3 separate regions of the Homo sapiens genome follow, and all the other regions are reported to be linked to region 2. Evidence: microRNA targets listed by miRTarBase, many of them from high-throughput screens and not tested one by one. Region 2 holds a microRNA gene; each other region holds the end of a gene's coding sequence. Distances are from middle to middle.

Region 1 (4,246 bases), not on the chromosome of region 2:
CTCGAATTCTTGGGCTCAAGCGATTCTCCTGCTTCGACCTCGCAAATAGCCGAGACTACAGGTGCATGCCACTATGCTCAGCTGATTTTAAAAAGTTTTTTAGAGATGAGGTCTTGCTATGTTTCCCAGGCTGGTCTCAAACTCCTGGGCTCAAGCAATCCTCCTGCCTCAGCCTCCCAAGTAGCTGGGACTATAGGCATGAGCCACTGCACCCAGCTCAGAAATTACTTTTGTATTGTTTTTGCCCCCCAAGACTTTGGTGTTATTTGTTACAGCGGCATAACCTGACTTGTCCTGCCTGATCCATTACACCATCCACATCATGGCAGCTGAGTCTAGCCAAGGGCTTCTATGTTAATTTGCTAGGATTCACTGTCACAAAGTTCCACAGATGGGGTGACTTCAGCAACAAAAACGTATTGTCGGCTGGGTGAGGTGGCTCACGCCTGTAATCCCAGCACTCTGGGAGGCTGAGGCAGTTGGATTGCTTGAGCCCAGGTTCAAGACCAGCCTGGGCAATATGGCAAAACCTTGTCTCCATCAAAAATACAAAAATTAAGCCAGGTGTGGTGGCATGTGCCTGTGGTCCCAACTACCAGGGAGGATGAGGTGGGAGGATGGTTTAAGCCTGGGCGTGGTTGCAGTGAGCTGAGATGGCGCCACTGCACTCCAGGGTGGGCAACAGAGCCAGACCCTATCTCAAAATAAAACAAAACAAAATCAGAGAGAAAGAGAGAGAGTGGGAGTTATCTCAGGGATCTTTGCTTCGTCTTTGGAGCTTGATGTCATTCGACATTTACTGAGCACCTACCATGAGCCAGGTGCTGTTCTATGCAAGGTTCTTCCAGTGATGGAACTTATATTTAAGTGTGTCTTGCAGAGACAGATGAGAAACAAGTAAGCAAGTGAGGCCTGATGTGATGGCTCGTGCCTGTAATCCCAGCACTTTGGATGGCCAAGGCAGAAGGATCAATTGAACCCTGGAATTTGAGAACAGCCTGGACAACCTAGCGAGACCCTTGTCTCTACCAAAATTTTTTTTTAAAAATTATCCAGGTGTGGTGGTGCTTGCCTGTAGTCCCAGCTACTTGGCAGGCTGAGGTGGGAGCATCACTTGAGCCTGGGAGGTTGAAGCTGCAGTGAGCTATGACTTCACTACTGCACTCCAGCCTAGGCAACAGAGTGAGATCCTGTCTCTAAAAAAAAAAAAGTTAATTAAAAACTTTAGGCCGGGTGTGGTGGCTCACACCTGTAATCCCAGCACTTTGGGAGGCTGAGGCAGGCAGATTACCTGAGGTCAGGAGTTAGAGACCAGCCTGGCCAACATGGTGAAACCCCGTCTCTATTAAAAATACAAAAATTAGCCAGGTGTGGTGGCGGTTGCCTGTAATCTCAGCTACTTGGGAGGCTGAGGCAGGAGAATAGCTTGAACCCGGGAGGCAGAGGTTGCAGTGAGCCGAGATGACACCACTGCACTCCAGCCTGGGCAACAGAGTGAAACTCTGTCTCAAAAACAAACAAACAAACAAACAAAACAACAACACCAACAACACTTTATACCTGTAATCCCATCACTTTGGGAGGCCAAGACAGGTAGATCGCTTGAGCCCAGAAGTTTGAGACCAGCCTGGACAATATGGTGAGACCCCCATATCTACAAAAAAAAAAAAAAAAAAACTAGCTGCATGTGGTGACTCGCGCCTGTAGTCCCAGTTACTCGGGAGGTTGAGGTGGGAGGATCACTTGAGCTCAGGAGGTCAAAGCTGCAGTAAGCCGTGATCACATCACCGCACTCCAGCCTGGGTGACAGAGTGGGATCTTGTCTCAAAATAATAATAATAATAATAATAATAATAATAATAATAATAATAATAATAATAGTAATAATAAACAATGAAAACAATAAAAACAAGTGAAGCAACTGTGACTAATGAAGTGCTTTAAAGGCAAGGAGACAGGGGCCAACGGGAACAGGGAAGTTACTGTACACAGTCCGAAGAGGTGACAATTGAGGACAGGCTTAATCAGCTACACAGGGAGTAAAAAGCCCAATTCTGTGCTTTGAGCCAGGAATCGATGGAGAATTTGAGGAATAGAATGAAGGCTGGTACAACTGGAGCCTTGTGAGCCAGGATGGAAGGGGAGCCAGTTAAGATACAGACACCAGTAGGTGCCAAACTATGGACTGAACTTTCCCCTAAATGTCCCCCTCCACCCTCAAAACTCAGAGATCTGGAGGGCGCAGGGATATCGGCGGGGGTGGGGGGGCTTGGAGGGAAAGACACAGAGGGGGCGTCAGTAGCACCTCGGACAGCACCATCCCTGTCCATGGTGCTGACAGCTCGAGGCACTGACAGTCGGTGGGAATTTAAAATGGTGCAGCCGCTATGGAAAAGTTTGGCGTTTCTTCAATTCAACACAGAATCTCCATGTAACCCAACAATTCCACTCCCGGGCATCTAGCCAAGGAAGTTGAAAGCAGGGATCCAGATAGTTGTACACCTGTGTTCACAGCAGCATGACTCCCCATAGCCAAAAGGTGGAAGCAACTCAAGCGTCCAACAGATGAACCAATAAATACCATGTGGTCCATCTACACAATGGGATATTATTCACTCATAAAAAAGATAAACCGTTCTGGCCGGTCAAGGAGGCTCATGCCTGTAATCCCAACACTTTGGGAGGCCAAGGCGGGCAGATCACTTCAGGTCAGGAGTTTGAGACCAGCCTGGGCAACGTGATGAAATGCCGTCTCTACTAAAAATACAAAAATTAAGGCCAGGTGTGGTGGCACATGCCTGTATTCCCAGCACTTTGGAAGGCTGAGGCAGGTGGATGGCTTGAGGCCAGGAGTTTGAGACCAGACTGGCCAACATGGTGAAACCCCTTCTCTACAAAAAATACAAAAATTAGCCAGGCATGGTGGTGCTCGCCTGTGGCCCCAGCTACTTGGAAGGCTGAGGCATGAGAATCACTTGAATCCAAGAGCTGGAGGCTGCAATAAGCTGAGATCGCATCACTGCACTCCAGCCTAGGTGACAGAGAGAGACACTGTCTCAAAAATTAAAACAAAAAACAAAACAAAACCAAAAAACCCCCCCACAAAATTTAGCTGGGTGTGGTGGCGGGCGCCTGTAATCCCAGCTACTCAGGAGGCTGAGGCAGGAGAATCGCTTGAACCCGGGAGATGGAGGTCGCAGTGAGCAGAGATCATGCCACTGCACTCCAGCCTCCAGCCTGGGTGACAGAGTGAGACTCCATCTCAAAAAAAAAAACACAAAAAACAAAAAACACACAGAAAGAAATTGAGGGGTGCCATATCGGGCCCCCAAGAGCACCTGTGAGCCCGGGAGGGTGGCACGGAATGTCTGGCCCTGTGGTCCGGAGTCAGCACTGGCTTCTGAGGAGCCAGAGAAGGGGCAGAGTGGGGACAAGCACCTAGTGGGGCTCCGTGTGGATTCTAGAAAGGCATTCCCTGTGGGGGGCAAGCACCAGGTGGTGTCAGACCCCAGCCCCAGCCATCCTGAGCACAGAAGGTGGGTCCCCAGTCCGAAAACGACAGGAAGCCATTTCCAAGAGGCGAGTTTATTGGGGGAGGGGCTGGTCAAGTCATCAGTGCAACACTGCATCCCCGCTCAGGGCAGGTCAGTCCAGTGTGTGGGCCGCGGGGGTCACAGGCATAGCAGCAGGAGGGGGAGTGAGCTACCCCCACGGGGCCACCCCCAGCCCAGTCCAGGGGTGGGAGGGAGGGGGTGACCCCTGTCGAGGTCCTCAGGCATCTGTGGCTGAGCCGGGCGGCTCCTGGGGCAGACAGCGTCGTTGCCGGAGAATCGACTTCTCCTCCTCCTGCGAGGGAAGGTCACACACACGTCACCCAGCACGGGACACTGATGCGTCACATGTCAGCCAGCACCCAGCACACACAGGATCTCAAATACGCCCCCGGCTCCCCTGCCTGACACTGTACTCATGACCCTCTGGGGGATGTGAGGGGACCCTGGGCCACCCACTCTCACCATCTCGGAGGCAGTGCTGGGGCTTGCGCCCTCGGGGGACCCCCCTTCATCCCTCGAGCAGTCGGGTCCGGCGTCCTCCTCATACTCTGTCAGACAATCTGACTCCTCTCCTGGAATCGGGGAGCAGGGCACAGGTGAGGGGATTGGGGCTGGCCTGCCATCTCCAGCCACTCCCCTCCCTCTTGGGGGGTCCCCTGGGCCCCTCACCGTCAGCACAGCCATCAGAGACA
Region 2 (4,246 bases):
CTGAATTGCTAATGCTACCTAGAATATGAAAGAAGGAACTGTAAATATTCTCTGAGATATTTAATATCATGATCAGATGCATCAAAATATTCTGCAAATAATTTTGCAAATACCTGACTGGCACACAAAAAATTTGCATGCATATGAGGAATTAAGACCACATGCAAGAAAATCAGTCTAAACAGATCCAGTGGTTACAGACTTTGGAATTCTCAGACACAGACTTTAAATTATAGTTGTCTCTCAGTATCTGTGAGGGATAGGTTGCATGACCATACTAAAATTCATGGATGCTCATATCCTTTATATATAAAATAATACAGCATTTGCACACAACCTATACAATCCTCCCATATGCTTTAATAATCTCTAGATTACTTACAATACCTAATACTATATATATATACTATGTAAATAGTTATGATGCATTGTTCAGGGAATAATGACCAAAAAAAGTCTATATGTTCAGTACAGATGAAACCATCCATGTTTTTTTTTTTTTTGATTAGTTGGTTGAATCCATGGATGCAGAACCCATGGAATATGGATGGCTGACTATAATTATACCCTTTGTGCTTAATAACAATTTTTGCAAAGATATGAAACTATAAAAAAGAATAAAATGGAAATTCCAGAATTGGAAATATAGCGACTGAAATTAAAAATTTTATGGATTTAAGGATCATTTGATAAAGCTGAAAAAAGAAAGTAAACTGAAGAATGTGAGAAACAAAATTATCCAGGAAGAGAAAAAAACATTAAAAGCAAAAGAGTAAAGGGCATAGACAATACAATGGGAAAGTGCCATGCAATATAATTGGAGTCCCAGAAGTAGAGGAGAGAGCAAAAGTGACAAAAGCAATAGGTGAGGAGATAATGGTTAAGAATTTTCCAAAACAAACAAAAGATAATGCAGAAACAAATTCAGAAAGTCAGGAACCCACTTAAGAGAAGTAAAAATAAAGTCAACTAGGCATAACATAATAAAACTATTACAAGCCAAAGACTGAGGAAATATTTCAATAAGCCAGAAGACAGATTGTATTCAGAGGGGCAACACTTAACATAAAATCTGACTTCAACAGACTATTATTCTCTGTGAATAAGGTCTTACATATTAGCCCTTCACTCCCAACTATTTGTCTATTTGTCTTAGGTGAGCTAAATGTGTGCTGGGACACATTTGAGCCAAATGTCCCAGCACACATTTAGCTCACATAAGAAAAATGGACTCTAGTTGGGAGTGAGGGGCTAATAAACACCAGATCCCAAGAAAATTCCCCATAATGGAAAATATAGGCAGATTTGACTATATAAAAGTTAAAAGTCCAATAAATTGATCAATTATTGCTCAACATATATATAAAAAAAAGCAGCACCAAATGAACAAAGAGTTATTAGATACGAAGTGCCAAGTAAAAAACCAAGCAAACAAAAAGCCCCTCAAACCCATAACAAATAAACAAAAATTTCCACTAGTGTGAATGAGCAAAGGATACCTGACAGGGGATGAATTGGCCTCATCGATAATCTGAGAGTTACACATTTTAAAAGACTATGCAGCTGGGCGCGGTGGCTCACGCCTGTAATCCCAGCACTTTGGGAGGCCGAGGTGGATGGATCACGAGGTCAGGAGATTGAGACCATCCTGGCTAACATGGTGAAACTCTGTCTCTACTAAAAATGCAAAAAATTAGCCAGGCATGATGGCGGGCACCTGTAGTCCCAGCTTCTTTGGAGGCTGAGGCAGGAGAATGGTGTGAACCCAGGAGACGGAGCTTGCAGTGAGCAGAGATCGCGCCACTGCACTCCAGCCTGGGTGACAGAGCGAGACTCGGTCTCAAAACAAAACAAAACAAAAAAAACAAAACAAAAAAGACTATGCATTATTATTGCTGTTGTTACTATTTTTGGTTTAGGTAAAGATGAAACAGTTACTCTCATGGGTACTAAGTACAGAAAAAAATTATGAAAAGCAGTTTAACATGATGCATTAAAAAAAAAATGATATGTCCTTTAACCTGGCAAATCAGCTTCTAGGATTCTGCTATGCACGCACAAATGTGAATACACAGATGTGTTCTCTGATGTACTGTTCACTAATAGAAAAAAGGTTAATTAAATTATGGTACATCTATTCTCTGGATTCTCAAAAACAATAAAAAAATGAGGTAGATTCTTCATGTATGCACCCTAAAAATGTTCATAATAAACAAATAAAACCAATAAACATAATAAACTAAACAAAAAAGTTGCAGGTCACTATGTGTAATGTGCTAGCATTCACGTGAAACCTAACAAAAAGCTTTATGTAATACATGTGTATTACACACATACTGCAAAGATAAATATTTAACAGCATTTAATCTCTGAGATAGGGCATAAAATTGAGGTTCTGAGAAGAGTTGAAGGTGGCAGTCTACTTCTTTTCTTCTACATTGTCTGAATTTTTTTCTTAACTAAGATTATATGTTAGCTTTGCAATTAAAATGTCTCACACATACTTTTATGAGAGAAAGAGAAATATCAAGTGATTTGTCAATAGAAAAATAGTAAACTCTACACTGTTAGTTGATCTTAAGAACAGATTATTATCATAAAATATGATATGATTAATTATAATTTCCTGCCCTTAATAGAGGTTACATTTTAAAGAAGGATGGGAAGCAAAATTGTTCCATCAAAAATAGATAAAATGGGTTAGGCACAGCAGCTCATGCCTATAATCTCAGCAATTTGGGAGGCCAGGGGAGACAACTGCTTGAGCCCAGGAGTTTGAGGTCAGCCTGGGTAACAGTGATACTTTGTTTCTACAGGAAAAAAAAAAAAAAAAAAAAAAAAAGCCAGGAGTGGTGGTGCATGCCTGTAATTCCTAGCTACTTGTGGGGCTGAAGTGGAAGGATTGCTAGAGCCCAGGAGGTGGAGGCTGCAGCAAGCTTTGATTGCACCACTGGACTCCAGGCTGGGCAACAGGGTGAGACCCTGTCACCAAAAAAAAAAAAAAAAAAAAAAAAAAAAAAAAGAAAAGAGTTGTAAAATGAATTTTACTGCTAGAGTTATATAGAACATCAATGCATACTTGTTCTAGATCTTTGGAAGATACTGGTTAATTGAAATGACTATAAAGCTAATTTTCCCATTAATTTTCATAAAATAGACAAACCTATTAAAATTAACTGTTCTATAGATTGATATACAAAGGTTCTCTTTAGAAATAATGTTACTATTTACTTAAAACGAAAGTTATACTTACAACAAGGAATAGGCTGAACTGGTCCAAGTTGTGGAAAGGTCATAAGAACAGAAATCCCTGGTAGATCGTTTTGCTTTGGTTGTTCGGCAGTTTGGTCAGCCCAAACTACCACTTTTTTCCTCTCTACCAAATGTTCGATCTCTTTGAAGTCAGATTCAAAAGCAGCATTTGACAGGCCGGCTTCTTTTAATGTGCAATATTGTTTTCTTAGGGTTGGAAGTAAAGCATTCAATACTCTATATACAGAAGATGAGAAGAAAGGAGAGATAAATATGACATTTTAAACACATTATTTTAGTTCTTTTATGTAACACCCAAAGCATTAGCATATCATTAAAATAATTTCCCATGTATGAACTGAGTTCTAGTCTCAGATTGTCTTCACTTGCTTCCATATGACCTTGGACAAGGCAAAAACTGAAGTTTTTCCTCTGTAATGTGAGGGACAGATAAATAGCCACTACTTATAATAGGAGATTGCTTTGAGGGCTAAATGAGTTAAGTATATTTGTTTATTTATTTTTTAGAGACAGGGTCTCACTCTGTGGCCCAGGCTGGAGTGTAGTGGCATGATCATCTCATTGCAGCCTCGAACTCCTGGCCTCACTTGATCCTCCCACCTTAGGCTCCCAAGTTGCTGGGACCACAGATGTGTGCCACTACACTGACTAATTTTTTTATTTTTTGGTAGAGATGGGGTCTTGCTATGTTGTCCAGGTTGGTCTCAAACACTTAGCCTCAAGAGATCTTCTTGCCTCCACCTCCCAAAGTGCTGGGATTACAGGGATGAGCCACTGTCCCTAGCTAAATGAATTAAATGTACATAAAAGCTTTTTGCAAAACATAATGTGATTTCCAAACTACAGATGTTGTTACTGCTACTAATTATCATAAAATTGAAATGAAAAATTAATATACTATGTGAAATGATGAGACATATTTTAGGTATACAACATTAAAACACACACACACACACAAACACATAACAAAATA
Region 3 (4,246 bases), 59 Mb from region 2:
CATTGGTAATGTTAGCTCATTTATTGTTTAGTTTCCTGTGAATTCATTCATCATAAAAATAATAATGAACCTAATTTTCTATTTGATACAGTCTAGTGGAAAGAATTCTAGAAGGGTTTAAAATAATGGTTGTAATCTCTGCGGTTTCAGATCTGGGGATTATCTCTTTAATCCTTAATCCTAACTGGATTATCTCTTTAAATAAAATATGAGACAGTGTATCTCGAAGAAGAGCCTTCATGTGACTTGAATCTGCCATTGAATTTAGATCCTTTGCCACGTTAGCCTTTTCTGTTTTCCCATCCCACATAAGATAAGTCAACTAAAATGAATTATTTTATTTTATAAACTATATTAATACTTGTTTACTGTATTCTTTGTTTTACAGATTTGCTGTCATGAACCGAAAAGTCCTTGATGTTTTTGGTACTGGTGCATCTAAACACTTTCAGGATTTCATCCCCAGGTTGGATCCAAGATACACAACTGTAACACCAGAGTTGCCCACAGAGTTTTCCTGAAGATGACTGTAACTTATTAATGTGACTAAATGTTTCATCTTGAAGAGTTAATTATGTTGAACACAAAGGAGGGGGCCCAAGCTCGAACTTCAGTGTTATTTCAGTTAGAGATACTCTTTTCATTTGTTTTGTTTTTCTTATGAATCAGAAATTCAGAAGCTTTTTAGGAAGATGTTGCTTAATAATTAAGCTTCCTCCATAGCCAGAATAAGATTCTGGATCACTGTAGTGACTGACATTATATATTATTGATCAAATTATGTCCACAAGCAATATTATATAATCTACGTAGAAGTGTAATAACAAACAAGAGTACACTTAAAATTACTTTAAAAGATGTCTTTAGTTCATTCCAATATAATTCTTGATTAAAATTAGGATTATTTCTACATTTTAGGATTTACAAAGGATCACGGGTACATGGATTTGGTCTATATATTTTTTTAAAGTTTTGAATTGGTATCTGTAGTAGTGGAATGTTATAGATTTGAAGTAACTCTCCACGGACAGTGCTGCTTTCGTGTAGAGCAATTTAATTGGAGAAGTGGCCATTCTTACTTCAGGGATGCAAAGATGGGTCTCATACCATTTGGATAAATGTCGTGGTATCCATGCTTTTTTTCAACTAATAACATCATCTCTCTTCATGACCAGTTAATTGGGCTATTTGGCAGCCCAGTGAACCTATGTACTAATGGCAAGTTAGGGGCAAATGGAAATGGACACATCCGATAAAGTTGAAATGTATGTTTTAATCTTTCACAGAAGTATTACACTTGAATATTTAAAAACAAAACTTTTAAACTTCCTATAGGTTTATGATGTTTGTTTTCATTTATATGGACATAATCCTTCATAGCTCAGTTTATATGCCATTGTTGTATTAGAAGGGATCAAAATCCTATGGAACAAAGTAGTCTTGGCAAGTTGGCAGTTTGTGTCCTCTCAGCTGTTTAACTTATGTAATGGATGTTTTGCACCTGAAAACACTATAAAAATCCAGTGGTTGTTTAAAAAGTCCATTTGTCACTAATTCCATTCAGGTTCTCCAACCTTCTTCTTGAATATCATTGTCACCATTTTTACTGTTAGAATAAAGAGGTGACACCATAAAGTCCTGCTGATAATGAGAGTAGTTCAGGACAGCTGTGATTGAAATATGGTCGCTATTTACAGTTTTTCAGGGAAAAGTTATACTTTTCTATGTTAATAAAGAGCTGAAGTGGTCTACAGTTAATGTGACATGTAGGGATGATGATATTTTTAAAATACATTTTGTTGCTAAAAAGTTTTTAGGCCAGTGCAAATTATGCAGTAGAACTTGTGTTGCAAAAGGAATTATAACCCATACTTTAAAAATGCTTAATCCCTCATATTCAATTTCATCAAGCCTTGTATACTTCTGCTTAAATGTAATTCAATCCTTGGTTGTTATGGCAAACAGAAACCCAACAAAAAGACAGACTCTGGTACTATGGTAACAGAGCCACTTTATCATTTGGTCAAAATTTGGCATTATGATTAGCTTTGTAGAACTGACCTGTTTATTTGGCAATGCTGTTAAAGGATCATTTCGGTTTCAGACTTCAAAGTTGATTAATAAATTTAATCTTAACTTTTTATTCACTGGAATCAAAACGATGGTTGGTACTGTGTTTACTGTTTAAAATGAAGTACTAAAGCCCTGAGAACTGCACCTCATTTTCTTTATCCAGAAATTGTGCTTATATATTTTCCTGTCAGGTTTAAAAAGATGTTTTAATTCATAAATTATTGTTTTCATTGACATTAAAAGACTGTGATATTGAAAGATGAATTACGAAATTTGCTGAGATTGTTTAGTAAAATTTTGCTGGTCAAAAAGGTGTATTTCTACAATTTACCTTTTCATTTTTATAAATTGCAGTCATTTTTTTAAATTTTATGTAAAATGTAAAATGAAATAGCTATCATGAAGCAGAATACAATGATGAATGTATAGGTTGAGTGAATAACCAATTTGCAGTGGTGGATTGAGAAGTCCAGTTTGATTTCATTGGGACAGACTGCAAAGTGTAGTTGTTTGAGCAAACACAAAGAAACTTTGTGTTTTTGAAGACAATCAGAATGATTACCTTTCTACCTCTAACTAATCAGGTATTGATTGACAACTTTTTGGCATTATAAATAAAGTAAAATAGATCTCTGCATTCCAAAATATGTTTTTTAGTTTATTTATATCCTGAAGAAATGGTAAGTTTTCACTGGAACTGATTACAGTAAACAATAATATGTCCCCTTAGTCTTTCTGACATTTTTATATAGATTGAGATTGAAAAACCGTGCATTTGGGGCAGTGGTATTATGGTCATTTCGTTGCTATTTTCTGTTTTAATAAAATCCTAGAACTAGTAGCAACCGAGTAAAGATTGAGTTTGCAAGATAACAGATTGTCTCAAATCTATTCAATTCTCAGCAGTTTTTCATCAAATAATTTCAGGATCCATTTTATTACTCATTTTTGAAGTAACACCTTTGGTTTAGTTTTATTTTCCCATAAATTCTGCTTTTGCTTCTGTAACTTTTTTCTTGAACTATAAGCATAGTCATCACTCAGTTGATATCTAGTTTATTTTTTGCCTTCATTCGTTGTTTAGTCAGTTGTTATTTAATTTAGAATTTTATATTTTTTTGGCTCTCAGATTTTATAATGAACTTTTATTAGACTGAACATGTATGTTTTTGATGGAATCCAAACTGAGCAAATGTCACACAGTATTTTCTTGTTGTGCTCGAGTGTTCGTCTCCTTGTAGATTGTATCTAGGCTAACATTTCATTTAGTTGTTAATGCTGACGTAATTGTTTCCTGCTTATATTTTATCATATCCCTGAGCTTCTGTGTGCTCTACATTTCATAGGTAATGAAAAGCAATGTCCTTTACTCTCAGGGAGCTTCGTCCACTTGCCTGTGTCACAACCTCTCCCTTGGTGCTAATTAGGAAGCTTCTTGTGGGACTGAAGGGAACTGACCACTGGAGCAATGGCCCAAATGTTGTTTTTGGAGCAGAGAAATTATTAGCCCAGAGATTCCTTAAATTCTCCGTGTGATTTATTTTTTTATTTTTTGAGTTGAGGTCTAGCTCTGTTGCCCGGGTTGGAGTACAGTGGTGCAATCATAGCTCATTGAAACCTCAAATTCCTTGGTTCAAGCAATTATTTCCCCTCAGTCTCTAATAGCTGGGACAACAGGCATGTGCCACCATGCCTGGCTAATATTTATTTTATTTATTTTTTTTTTGTAGAAACAAGGTGTTGCTATGTTGTCCAGGCTGGTCTTAAACTCCTGGCCTCAAGTGATCCTCTTGGGTTGGCCTCCCGGGACTCTGGGATTCCAGGTGTGAGCCACGGTACCTAGCCATATTTTTATTTGTATGAGTATTAAGTAGTTTGACACAGCAACAAAGTTGTCCTTTGTTTCCCAAAGGCAAAAGTATACATTTCTTACTAAGATATCTTATAAACATTCTCTCTCCTAACACCTCCTTCTAGTAATCATTTTCACATAGTAGAATACTTCACTCAGCTGAAAATGAGTGGCCAAGAAAAAAATACAAGAAAAGGAATAAGAAGTGATTATTTTCTTTAGGGCTGCACTTTGAATGTGATGAGTAATAAGGTTACCTTCATTGTGGAGGTGATGTTTACAATTGCCTCCAGCCCTTTACTATTGGTGCTGAAGCCACCA

What was found. The annotated mature microRNA hsa-miR-610 reads UGAGCUAAAUGUGUGCUGGGA and lies in region 2 at 1,158-1,178, shown strand. An mRNA with a match to its seed (bases 2 to 7 or 8) in the 3' UTR can be bound and repressed. Matches are read on the target gene's strand: a 7mer-m8 pairs with bases 2 to 8, a 7mer-A1 pairs with bases 2 to 7 and ends in A, and an 8mer does both.
Region 1: miRTarBase lists PNPLA6 as a target of hsa-miR-610. Seed matches in the 3' UTR shown: 7mer-A1 at 3,699-3,705.
Region 3: the mRNA of TMEM135 is a reported target of hsa-miR-610. Seed matches in the 3' UTR shown: 7mer-A1 at 1,378-1,384 and 7mer-A1 at 3,678-3,684.

The regions. Positions count from the first base shown.
Region 1 is chr19:7,561,088-7,565,333 of GRCh38, reverse strand. It overlaps PNPLA6 (patatin like domain 6, lysophospholipase), which reads right to left. Exons shown (of 32, transcript NM_001166114.2): 30 at 4,224-4,246; 31 at 4,017-4,126; 32 at 3,570-3,846. The coding sequence ends at 3,772. Among named protein-coding and RNA genes, the nearest start is that of PNPLA6, 27 kb to the right of the region's middle.
Region 2 is chr11:28,055,673-28,059,918 of GRCh38, forward strand. MIR610 (microRNA 610) reads left to right here and starts at 1,143; the gene lies at 1,143-1,238. KIF18A (kinesin family member 18A) reads right to left here. Exons shown (of 17, transcript NM_031217.4): 13 at 3,254-3,489.
Region 3 is chr11:87,320,813-87,325,058 of GRCh38, forward strand. TMEM135 (transmembrane protein 135) reads left to right here. Exons shown (of 15, transcript NM_022918.4): 15 at 389-4,246. The coding sequence ends at 521. It also overlaps the pseudogene LOC100420680. Among named protein-coding and RNA genes, the nearest start is that of TMEM135, 290 kb to the left of the region's middle.